3 separate regions of the Homo sapiens genome follow, and all the other regions are linked to region 3. The links come from fine-mapping of genetic effects on gene expression. A gene starts in region 3. Each other region holds a variant in brackets. All regions are shown on one strand. Distances are from middle to middle.

Evidence for each region. PIP is the estimated chance that this variant, and not a neighbour inherited with it, causes the effect.
Region 1: its variant is the best candidate, but not a certain one, in a credible set for the expression of RFTN1 in whole blood (INTERVAL, PIP 0.88).
Region 2: its variant is the best candidate, but not a certain one, in a credible set for the expression of RFTN1 in lung (TOPMed, PIP 0.89).

Annotation. Positions count from the first base shown.
Region 1 is chr3:16,466,801-16,471,016 of GRCh38, reverse strand. All of the region lies in intron 2 of RFTN1 (raftlin, lipid raft linker 1), which reads left to right. Among named protein-coding and RNA genes, the nearest start is that of RFTN1, 45 kb to the left of the region's middle. RefSeq lists enhancers at 3,094-3,223, 3,464-3,593. The variant A/G (reference allele first, on the strand shown) is at 1,717.
Region 2 is chr3:16,458,178-16,462,393 of GRCh38, reverse strand. The region is part of intron 2 of RFTN1 (raftlin, lipid raft linker 1); the gene reads left to right. Among named protein-coding and RNA genes, the nearest start is that of RFTN1, 53 kb to the left of the region's middle. The variant A/G (reference allele first, on the strand shown) is at 1,892.
Region 3 is chr3:16,511,933-16,516,148 of GRCh38, reverse strand. RFTN1 (raftlin, lipid raft linker 1) reads left to right here and starts at 2,450. Exons shown (of 10, transcript NM_015150.2): 1 at 2,450-2,707. RefSeq lists silencers at 235-284, 892-1,067, 2,221-2,290, 2,321-2,680 and enhancers at 2,971-3,050, 3,601-4,010.

The sequences.
Region 1 (4,216 bases), 45 kb after region 3:
ACTTTCCAAAGCACTTTTTGCTTGCATATTTTACCTTTAACAACTCTGTGAGGTAGGTTGGACAGATATTGAATTTAGTTATAATAGTTATCTGGAAATTCTTGTTTGTTAATTCTAGCACCCTGTGTAACTTGGGATTGGTCTTCATTGATTGCCATTTTTCTTTAAAATGGGTAACATTTTTTATGACATTTTTGTGGTAATTTTGAATTGTATCCTGGACATTGTGACTGTGATGGTGTGGAGACTCTGGATTCTGTTATATTCTTCTGATGACTGTTGATTTTGTTTGTTTGCTTTAGCAAACAAGCAGTTGGACTCCAGCTGCCAACTCTGTCTCTTGGGTGGCAGCTGAAATTTGTTCTTTTAGCCTTAGCTGGGTTGCTTAGGGAGTACCTCGTGCATGCATGGTTCAGGAGTCTGCCAGAGATCTGGGCAGAGTTTATACACAGAATCTGGGGCTCTTTTCTCTGGCTCTCTCCTTTCTGGGGTTTTCTCTTCATATTCTACCAGCTGAAGTAGCCCTGTGTTCTGTCTTCTGTTTCTTCAAGCCAGTAAACTGTGGGTTTCTGTCCGAGTTTTAGCTGCTCCTGTGGTACCAACCAGGGCCTGCCCTTGGGCTAAAAGCCATCAGAGACAAAACCTCGCCCAGTGCAGTACTTTTCTTGCAAGTGTTGATGCCCTCCAGTATCTGCCTGCCTTGGCTTCCTCTCCAGTGCCCTCAGAAAGTTGCTTTGTTTTGTTTTGTTTTGTTTTTATGTCTGTATGTGTGTGTGTGTGTGTGTGCGTGTGTGCAGAGTTTATAGTTGTTATCTGCAGGAGACTTGATCTATAGGAGCATCCTCAGTCATACCAGAAGTGGAGCAGGAAGGACAAATATCCCCATTTTAAAGATAGACAAATGAAGGCCCAGAGAAATCCCATCTCTGGTGTCAGAACACAAGTTTCTGGGTCTGTAGCCTGGACCCCCCTCTCTTTCTGACAGATCTAGGTTCAATTTTCACTTCTGCTCCTTGCTAACCCCATGACCTTGAGCAAGTCACTTAACCCTTTCTGAGCACACAGCTCCTCTGGGTTATTGTCAGGGTGAAATGAGATAACATATCTGGAGCGGCTGGGGCAGAATAAACCTTCAGGAAATGTCCCTGTGTCAACAGAAAGGGTCCTTGGGGATGTACTTGCTGTGATTGTTTGTCCTATCTTCCCCTGGGGTTGACTTTGGCTTTGTGTCCAGTCAGTGCTGTTGTGCAAGGAGGGAAAAAGAAGTAGCTTCATGTTCAAGGTGAGCAAGCATCCTCTGGGCCCAAGGCCGTCCTCTGTGGAAGTCCTGGAGGGGCCTCAGGCCAGCATGTCTGCCCCCAAGCTCCTGGTCCTCTCTCTTCCCCCCTTCCCTCTGTGGAGCACGCCCTACCATGCTCCCCAGTGCGGCATCCTGGAGTCCCACTTTGCGTCTCCAGTTCCTTCCCGCCTGCACCAGGCATCTGTGGAAGGTCGTGCACCTGCCTTTGCACTGTCTCTTGGTGTCAGCTTGTCTTCTCCATTCCTCTAACCAGTGGCCCAGATTTGTCCAGCCTGGATAAGCATAACAGCCTCATAACTGGCTGCTGATGGCAACTCTTGCTATTGTAAAGTGCTTAATAATAATGATGATGATGATAATGATACTATTGGGAAGTATGTAATAACAACAACCGACTCACATAGCACCTAATATAT[A/G]CCAGTCACGCTTCGAAGTCCTTCACATATATTAATTCTTTTAATCCCCACAACACTCAGTGAAGTATATACTATGATTATGCACATTTTACAGATGAGAAAACTGCTAGGGAGTTGCGCAGCTAGGATTTGAACCTTAGTGCCTAGCTCCGGAAGCTATGCCCTTGACTTCTTCAATAGACAGCTAGATATTTTTCACATGTAACCTGTGGGATAAGGACACTGTTATTCTTGTACTTATTTGGACGTGGGATAGGCGGGAACTCAAGGATTGTTAGTGGCCTGTGGCCAAAGGAAACTCCACCTTAGTGGCCAGTGTCAGATGCGATTCAGGCAGGCTGAGTGATGGGGGGAATGGATTGGCCTTTTGGCAGTGAAGAAATGGCTGCATGCCTGCCCTAATGGGCCAGCCACAGGAAGGGGAAGCATACGTACCCTTTTCTGGCTGTGTCTAATTATGTGGCATTTTTTTTGTCTCAGTTATAAAGATTTAATTGCTCCATTGTACTGGGGCACCAGGGCCTCTTATAAGTCATCTTTTATGATTGGTGATAATTGGCTCAGCTTGAATTGGCTACAGCTAGTTGCAATTTCCTTACCATTTTTAATCTGAGATCTGATTTTAGCCTTATCTTTTTTCTGAGTAAAGTTTTTTTTTTTTTTTTTTTTACTCAAACGCTGGGTTGTACGTGAGGAAATGCGTCAGCCTCTCCCCGCTACTCCATCACTCTATTTGGGCTGATTTATGCATTAAGCATCTAATCTAAAGATAGCAAAGATATGAAAAGGCATCTTAAAGTGTTTTAATGGCTTGGAAGAGAAAATCCCACCAAAGGGAGAAACGTGCCCTTCACTCTGTCAGTGTTGTTAGGATCTGATGCCTGATCCCAGGGTGGGGACATTTTTGACAGTCATGGGGTATAGGCAGACAGCATCTAAGGGAGCCCTACTTATCTACCGGAAACTCGAGACAGAATGCAGGTACTTCAAAAACGAACGACAGTGAGGGTTTGGGAACTCCTACAGATAAGTTTCCAAATGAAAAAGATAAGAAGCCTGTCAGCTGAAAGGGAATGAGGAATGAGCCACATAAATTAAGCCGACGGAATTTCTAGAGAGTGAAGTGTGCTGAGGCATCACCAGCCGTGGGATATAAATATAGCTCACCCTGTTATCATTCTGGGGTCTGCAGTCTCCATATTGATGTTTCTATGTTTTGAGTAAGCACTTCCTGAATGTTCCAGTCTTTGAGTCTGGCAGACTTGATTTATGAAGAAAAGATGATGATAATGAATGGGAAAGGCTTGCTGAGGAATTAATTTGGGGGTAGTAGTAAGAGCGAGCCTGCTTCTCTCACCCTCTTTCCCCAAAGTGTACTCTTAGGTGGGTGCTGCCAAAATGCACGAGTGGGGTGAGGGATGAAGCTCTTTTAGACTTCCTTCCTCTGGGGTCTGCTCCCTGCTCTGTCTGCCAGAGATATTTGCTGTGAAAGGCTTTCACCCATTTCTGTCTTCTTTCCTTCCTTTCTTTATTCCTTTCTTCAACTGAACTTTGTTTCCATTCACTTGCATGCCCCTGAAGCTTTTGATGTGCATGAACTGCCGTTGGCTTTTTGCATCTCTGGTTTCCCTTCCATGGCGCACGGTCATCACCTCTTTTGGCCACTCCTCTTTGAGGGCTTTTCTCTGCTTCCCCTTAACCCTGGGCATTCCCCGGGCTCAGGCCCTGCCCACTCTCTTACAGAAGGCTCCTTCCGGGGTCAGCATGTGCTTGGCATGTTTGAGGATCACGAATGAGTCAAGTGTCTGGATCCAGTAGAGATGAGGATGAGTGGCGGGCAGCGGAGGCAGCCGGGGCCATGTCCTGTGTGTAGGGCCTGTGTGGAATGTTGTGGATGGCACTGGAGCAGTCTGAGAAGGAGGGGGCTGCATCTGGATGGCTGAGTTTGTGAGCCAAGGGGCCTCTGCATAAGTGAGGTGTTATTGACCTTGGGATCTTTCTTCCTCAAAATTGAAAGACCAAGGCACTGTGGTTTATTCTCCTGCCTTCCCTCATTTCCAATGCCATCATATCCACTTGATTATTCTTTCCAGCATCTCTCTATGCATCCGTCTGTTTCATTCCTCCCACTGGTTCCCAGGCTCAGGCCTTTAGCTCAGGAGTGGACTACGATCATGATTTCCTTCTACCCAAAACCCTCACCCCCCTTTTTGTTTTGTGTATCTCTCACACATCATTAGACTAAACGCTGCTGGTAACACATTTTTCTCCACACTGACAAGATAAGAATTGACCTTAGGCCTGCCAGTCTCTTTCTCCCACATCTGGCCTTTGCATCCATCCCCCTACTAACCATCTCCTCTTCAATCAGAGTGACCTTCCTTTTTATCCTCCCTCCCTTTGTCTGTAGCGTAATTACTGTGTCTTGACTTGTATTAGATACTCACTGTCTAGAAAGATGGACTGCCTTCCATGTTTTCAGCTATGAGAAGCGTATGTG
Region 2 (4,216 bases), 54 kb after region 3:
ATAAGGTTACTATTCACAGGTTCTAGGGATTAGGACATGGACACATCCTTTGGGGGAACCTATTAAAGGTGGTGCTGCTATAAGAATAATAATAGTACGGGCTTAACAATAGTAGTTATGTGCCAAGAAGCATGCTAAGTGCATTATGTGGATTGTCTCATTTAATCCTTGTTCTGACTCTATAAATCAGGTTCCCTTATTACCACCATTGTACAGAAGAGGACTCAGGCTTGGCAAGGTTTAGGAACTTGCCAAGGCCATTCAGCTAGTAAGTGGCAGAGCCAGGATTTGAACCCACGCATTTGGGCTTCAGACCTCCTTGCCTTACGTGCTATGAGTGAGCAGGCTGAATTTCTGGTTGGACTGCTTCCAGGAGCTGGCTTTTAGACTGTGGGCCCTGGATGGTACTTCCTAGCTCTAAAATTCTATGGTCCAGTGAGTTTTTGTCAGAAAAGAAAACCTCAACCTGGATTATTAAGAGTATAACAAATTTTAATCTGCCAGATAATGGAGAGGATTTGCTTACACTGCTTATAGATGAAACTGACAGGAGTTTGCTGTTGTGCATTTTGATATTTGCTGATGGTTTAAGGTGTGTGTACTGGAAGGAAAAATTACTTGTGGACACACAGGCCAAATCTATACCATCTGAATGAATTGAAGTAATTACTCAGGTTATTTAGACCCTGCCTGCCAGATAATTGAGGTAAATGGGGTTATTAATTTGAAGTAGCTAGGTAATTTGGTCTGCCTCCCTTTGATAATGTAAACATGGTCATATCGTGTAATTGTATAATTGGCTGAAAGGGCCCTATTCTTTCTCTTGAAGCATCTGCTATTGTCTGTGGCCAGGCCTTTGGGTTATAGTGTGATAGTGTGTTCAATTAGTACAGAAAAACCCTAGGTATTTAGTGTGGGTTTCCTGGTGGAAAATTCATACATTTATGTGTATGTATTTATGTACGTGTATGTGTATATATTTTTAATTAAAAATGGAAATATAAAAAGTATTTTAAAATGGATAATTATTCCTGATTATTCACGGAAGAGTTTTAAAGAAATATATATATGCTTCCCAGTTAAACCACCTTAGAGTCTATTTGAGGAGATCAGCTCCTTTGTGAGAGTTGTTTTTTTTTATTGAGCCCCACTGTAATGTCTATATTTGAATTGCCTAAGAAACTCATTATAGCAGAGCTTATTCCTTGTCAAAGATGGTCAAAAGAAAATTAGATTCAGTTCATTAGCTTCTACCTAAACCTTGCTTAATGGGGCCCATGTTGTGGTTTTGTTATTGGATCACAAACATTTAACTTGATCCTTCCTATTCCTGGCACTGGCCCATATTGTCATGGCAGCTGTGCTGCCCGAGGGCCTCTGTGGCGTGGCCTCCTCATCTCACTCTCCAAAATGGCTGAGCCGTGGGTTCTGAGACTTCATTTTACATTGGGACCAAACCTGCTTTGTCTGTCATTTGTTGAAGAAGTCTGGCCAGCCTCGAGTAGGGGCTGCCTTATGAAGGGTAAGAAATTCTGGGGTGGGTAGGTGGGAGAGAGTGGGCCACTTCACAGCTGTGGTGGCCACATGTCTCAGATTTTCTGGAACCATCTAGCTCTAAAATATTCTCTATGGTTTTAGACCTTAAATCCTGAATTTTGGCATGGAAAATGAGGCTCAAGTGACGTCTGCTCACGTGTCTCTTGCGTTAGTTATCTGTATAACAGGCCTCTTACATGATATTTCTACCCTCACCAAAAAAGGAGAAAATGAGAAGAAGATTTAGGTTAAAAAAATATATATTCCCCACCCAGCCTCTGCTTGAAATGTGAGGTTTTGGTTTTGGACAGCGGCGTTGGTTGTTGACGTCATTGATCCAACTATTTTATTTCCC[A/G]CTTCACTTTGCTTGCCCAGGTGTGGTCCAAGGAGTATGAGGGCTGTTAAGATAAAACCAGGCTCCGGAAATTCAAATGAAATGTCTACCTGAACCTCCTCAAGTCTTTCCTGTGGGCTGTGTATTTATTTATAAGCCTATTGGGCTTTGGCAGCAGAAAAAAAGAAGAAAGGAGGAATTTGTTTCTAAAATGAAAACCAAATTTAGTTAATATAAATGCTACCCATGTGCAACTCATCCTGCCAGATCCCAGTAAATGTACAAATATCAAAATAACACAATAGATAAAAATCACGGTGGAAAAAGAGAAATTGAGACACTTCTGTGTTTTGCAGGGCCAGAATAATCTACACAGTTTACTCCTTCCACCATGCATATTTTACATACTACATTATTATCTGATTTTATATAATATTCACATTGTAATTTCTGAATCAACTCTAAAATTCATAAAAATTTAGAATAAAGCTATGCCCACTCAAAGCATTGAAATAAGTCAATCATATGGAAAATTCATGTTCTCAAAAATGTCTTGGCTTCAGTTATCTGAGAAGAAAAAAATCACATTTAATTTTCTTAGTTTTCCAGTTTAGTTTGCAAATGTCAAATAACTAAAAGTTATAGGAACCAAAAAATGATAAACTTCTCTCAAAACTTATTGTATATAAATCTTATTTTTTTTCTAGCATTTAAATAAACAACAATGGCCAATAATTCTATAATATGTTCCTTTTTCAACTTTTTTCTATAACATGATGATATTGACTAGATATAAGTGATGGCTTATTTAAGCAAGTGAATTCTGCACATGGACTAGAATTTTTAAGAAAAATTTTAAGAAAATTTTGAATGTAGAGTTGAGTTTTATTTGTAATTTTCATTTATTTACTTATTATTATTATTATTTTAGAAACACAGGGTCTCACTCTGTCACCCAGGCTGAGTGCAGTGGCACGATCACAGCTCACTGTAGCCTTGAACTCCTGAGCTTAAGCAGTGCCCCACCTTAGTCTCCAAGTAGCTGGGATAAAGGCACACGCTGCTATTCCTGGCTCATTTTTAAATTTTTAAAGTAGAGACTCCCGCTTCAGCCTCCCAAAGTGCTAGGATTTGTAATTTTCAATCTTTTGAGATATGAGAAAATGAAAAATAGTTTTCTACTAGGGCACATAACTCTTCATGTAAGAGTTTAGGTGTCTGTTACACATTGTGGATATTACTTAGTCCTTTCTGGTTCTGTTAAAACTAATTTCCTTCAGAAAACACAGTAGTGGCCAGGCACAGTGGCTCATACCTGTAATTCCAGCACTTTGGGAGGCTAAGGCGAGTGGATTGCTTGAGCCCAGGGGTTCAAGACTAGCCTGAGCAACAGCGAAACCTCATCTCTACAAAAAATACAAAAAATTAGCTGGGCATGGTGCACACCTGTGGTCCCAGCTACTCGGGAGGCTGAGGTGGGAGAATCACCTGAGTCTGGGAGGTCGAGGCTGCAGTGACCTGTGATGGCATCACTGCTCTCCAACCTGGTGACAGAGTGAGACGCTGTCTCAAGGAAAAGAAAAGAAAGGAAAACCCAGTAGCCCTGGGTTGTAACTTTTAGGGAATTCGTGAAGCTAAGCACCATGTTTTCAGATGACTCCCCTGATTTTTGTACTTCTAATCTGCTAGAAAAACAGATGGACAGATTCATTATAAATGTGTATTTAAAAAGAACAGCTATATGGCCTGAAGGACTGCCCAAAGGGAACTGAAGTTTATGGAAAGCATTATGGTTTTGAGAATTATTTGGCTTCTTGCTGTTTTGTGGATCTGAGTTTTTAGTTGCTGGAATTTGACATCTAAATAAGAGGCTGTTTGCTATGATATGTAAATAGAGTGTGTGGGTCGAAATGCTTGTCATTATGCATGTTGAAAGGACAATTTACGATTTACAAAGATGGAAAAGCTCAATAAAGATCCACTATTGAAAAGCTACTGCAAAAGGAAAGCTATAGATAGATGGGCTTCTTGCAGATGAACAGAATTAATGACAAGTGAAAGGAAAAATTCACATCATGAGGAGGGAAAATGTCTTCCAAATGTCAGTGAGAGAAACACTTTTCCTTTTCCTTTCTGCTGTATCCTGGGCATAGCACCCCACTACCTGAAACTCCAGCACCCCGAGCATACCTGGACCTGAATAATACAGCAGAACATGCTGCAGCAATCTATTTCCATGCTTGCCCCTGCTGGCTTTGTACACCTCTATTGTCTAATCATCTCATCTTGTTTCCTTTTATCTTCCTGGTACCTAACACAAGCATGGCACATAGTAGGTGCTCAAAG
Region 3 (4,216 bases):
TGGGGCCATCTGTGACCTGTCATGCAGTAATAGCTTGGTTTTTCCCGTGTTCAGCTCCTCCCCGAGTACTTAGTGTTAAATCACAGGGGGAGGAAGTGTGAGCAGAGAAAAAACAGCACTATTACATGACCCCCGATGAGACCGCTGTGATAGAATTAAAAGCTGCCGCCCTAGGACATTCTAACAGATGACATTGTGAGGTTGCCAAGGTAACCCACTAGGATACAGTCCCAGCATCTTTGGGGTTGGGGCTGGGTAGGCAAGGTCAGTTAGAAGTGAGACCCAGCTGCCCAGGGTCTCTCCCATGGCTGGCCAGTCCATAGCAGTCAAGTGGAAAATCCAGGCAGCTCTCTACAGAACACAAGTGAATCCAACATTTGGCTCCTCATTAAATATTCCAGGTGAAAGAGAATTGGAACACCCTGGATAATTGCTGAATGCAGGTTAAGAAGAGCCTTGAAAGATCTGCATGCTATTGGCTCATCCACTCATTCCACACATATTTACTGAACACCTACTATGTGCCAGTAGGAAGCATCAGAATATCAAGAAGATCAGGAGTTCTAGAAAACCCTCAAAAATGCAGATCCAAGCAGGGAAAAAAGTCATTTAAGACATTTGCCCATGATTATTAGCACTCGGGAAAATATTGAGTGGAAGAAAATGGAAGCAATCAGAATAGCATATTAACCTCAAGCACTGGTGTCTTAAAAAAAAAAAGCACAAAAAACACAACGGTGTGCAAAAGTTTTATAGAGTGAAAATGATTTGCTTAAAAGAAATCAAGCACACTGCAACTAGGTTATGCTGCATTCCCCCACCCCCACCCTCCTTTTTCCTTTATCTTCTTTTAAATGCCTACCGGTTAACACCTATCAATTTTATTTTCTTTCTGTGGCCTAGTGACCAGCAAAGGATCAGAAAGATTTTGGATGGACCCTGACTTGCAGCAATTCAAGGCCTCGGGCAGATAGATAGCATGAAGACCCCTCCCTTTGGCTTCATAAATGGGTGTTCACAACCTCTGGTGATGCCCCTGAGCAAATGTCCCTGCGCACTACTGTCTGAACCTGGACTTACGTGGTCACCTGGTCTTATTTTCTTTCATGTGGCAAGCTCAAGTGTAGGGGGGAAATGGGGGACACTGGGGATAGTGGTGGTGAGTGTGACACCAGGAAAAGGTGGGGTGGAAAGGGAAAGGAGAAAAACAAATAAAAACAAAACAGTGGTGAGGGAGGGGGAGCAAAACAGAACTAGAAAGGCTATGGAAAGAGAAAATAAGGAAGAAAATCTCTGAGAAGCTGTGGTAACAGGAAGAGTCCCTGAAAACAAAATAGTGCTTCCTTACTTGCTGGAGGAGTGTTATTAGTGCCAGAAGGACCTCATCGAAACACTGCTGGGCCCCTAAACCAGCCCTCCACCCTGTGTGCTCCAGTGCTTAACTTTGCCCACACAGGGTCTTCTTTGCCCAATTAGAAAATGGAGATAATTAATTAAATTATCTCACCCTTCTTGTTCTAGCCCCCTTAAAATAATGATAATAGCTAAGTTATAGAGTGGTTGCTAAACACTTTACATATAATAACCCACGAAGAAGTGCCATGTGACAAATAGGCGCAGAGCAGTTAAGTCACTTACCCAAAGTCACACAGCCAGTAAGTACTAAAGCCAGGAATCCAACCCTGATTATTTGACTTTAAAGTTCCCCCTCTTAACCCCTACACTGTAATTCTGCTTGGTTTAGTTTTACGAAGAAAATATTTTCTAATGGCTCCTTGCCTCACATCTTCACTTTACTAATGCAGCCTGGTTTACTAGTGCTTCACTCTTTATATAATTTTCTCCCTGGGTGCCTCAAGTTGCCACGCAAGGTGATTCTCCAGATCTTCTCAAACCTCTGGACATCTTAAGTAGGTAGACCAAGGGATGGCAACGGAGACAGTGGCATTACCCTTCCCTGAAGCACTAACTCGCAAGAGAGAATTTCAGCAGCACCTGAGATGTTTAGGGATGCTCCCACCTGTGGAATGGGGTCGAGAAATGGTCCTCTCTCAAGTCGGCCCCAACCCCACCCCCAGCCATCAGCACCTTGATGGCAGTCGCCCTTTCAGCATCCTGGCTCAAATCTTGAAGGATCCTTGTCTCCCAGGCGCTCTTCCTGACAGCACACAACCTTGATTAGGAGGGGCTGGGAGGGAGGATCGATGAGCCCCTGACCCCTGGGTTCTGAGGCTGCCAGGGTCGCTTGCAGCTCGGCCGCGTGGAGGTGACCGGGCGGAACTCCGAGGGGGCGCGGGGAGAGCTGGGCGGGCCCACCGCTCCAGCGGCTGCTGTCAGGGGCCGCGAGGCTTTCCCTGAAGATGCAGCGTAGCATATTTTGCACATGAGTTCAGAGGAAGAGGAAGTGTAGCCGGCGGACGCGCGGCGGCGGCGGCGGGGGCGCGTCGGGGCTGGAGCCGGAGCGCGCCGGGCGCTGGGCGCAGCGAGCGAGAGCGCGGCGGCCGCGGGCTCCGGCGAGGGACAGACGCACCGATCGCCGGAGGGACAGACACACGACCACGCGGCGCCACCGCCCACGCCTCCACCCACCGGCGCCCAAGTCCTCCCCGCGCCGCCTCCTCTGTATGGCACAAACTTTCCTCCCGGGACGGAACACGCTGCCTCAGGGAGCCCGCGACCGCGCCTTCTCCTCCGCCGGTCCCATACGGTAGGCGGCGGGGGGGGCGCGACAGGGCTTGGGGTGTCGACCGGCACAGGCCCCTCCGTTTGGCCCCATGGACCGGGTCTCTGGCGGGTAGTGGGAACCGCGCGTGGCGCCTCCCTGCAGGTTGCTCTTTGCCGGGGCTCCGGAGCTGCCAGAGCAGCACCCCCTGGCCCGCGTCGGATGGGGACCTGGGCTGATCCTTGGGACGCCTGGATCTTGGGCCAACTTTTTTTTGCGGGGAACGGGTGTAGGGGAGTCATTCCTGGAGCGATGTAGGGAGAGGCACTTCGGAGCAGCCTGTTGGGGGTCGTAGGCTCTGCAGGCTCAGAAGCGCCTAGGAAGGACGCAGAGGTGGGGGAGCTTGGAGGCTACAGGTGGGTCCAGGACACACTGCCGCTGGGGTCCTCGGAAAAGAACAGGAGGGAGCTGGTCGCGGAGTCCAGGTTTCCGGGGTGCGCGCGGCCTGGGTGGGGCAGGGTGGAGGCGGTGCCTGACTGCCCCTCTGCGTGTGCCCTGGGAGGTGGGTTTGCTCTGGGGACAGAGGTGCTGGACGTGTAGGAGCAGACATGCCGCGCGCTCCGAGGAAGCGCCGGAACCACCAGAAGCACAGGGACGCGGGTGCCGAGAGTCCCCAGCACTGAAAACGGGGATCTCCTCTTCTGTAAGGGATTTTCTTCCCTTGTCTTAACCCACTTCTCTAGACTCAAGGGACGCCAGGATGGATATGGGTCTGGGCGAGGAGGAGGTGGTTGTGTATTTCGGGAAGCCCCGTTGTCAGGCACGCGCACCCCAGTCCTAGGCCAGGGCTGGTGCCCTTCACCTCCGGTGTCGCTGCCTTTGGCAGCAAGAACCGCGTGGAGGCCAAGGTTGTAGAACCAGGCACGCTCCCTGCTGTCTGTCTGTGACTCTGTGCTTGCCCTCAGCTGCCCTGTGTGGTTATGGGTGATCCCTAGGGACGCTGGGTGGTGTCAGTGAGTTTCTTCGGGGGCTTAAAACAAACAAACAAGAAGTACTTTTTTAAAAAAAAAGTCTGGCTCAATCTCTGTCAGTGGTCACCCCAGTTTCCAGCAACTCATGTGCTGGAACCCTTGTAGTCGGTACAGCTGTTTCAGGAGCTGGGCGCTCAACTAGACTAGGCATCTTCCAACCCCTGCCATCGTGTGTCATCTCAGGATAAGTTAAGGCCTTGCCAGGAAGGAAGCCGGGTGTAATGTGAGCGACCTCTGGGCCTGTGGGTAGGGCCTCTCTGCTGCCGGGATTCCTAATTTGTATCTCTGAACAGCTGAATCCCAACGAAGTTCAAGTGACCCCAGATGTCACCAAACCCCAGAGAGGGGTTACGAAGCAAGCTGTTTGGGACTCTTTGGTGCGTGTGTGCTAACCTCAGTGAAATCACTCTAACCTCAGACTGAGCTCTGCATCCTCTTTTGCCTTCAGTGGGGTTTCTGGCCCGCCTGAGTGATTCAAAGCCCCAGAGCTGGCACGTCATCCTCTGGCTGCATTTGTATATCA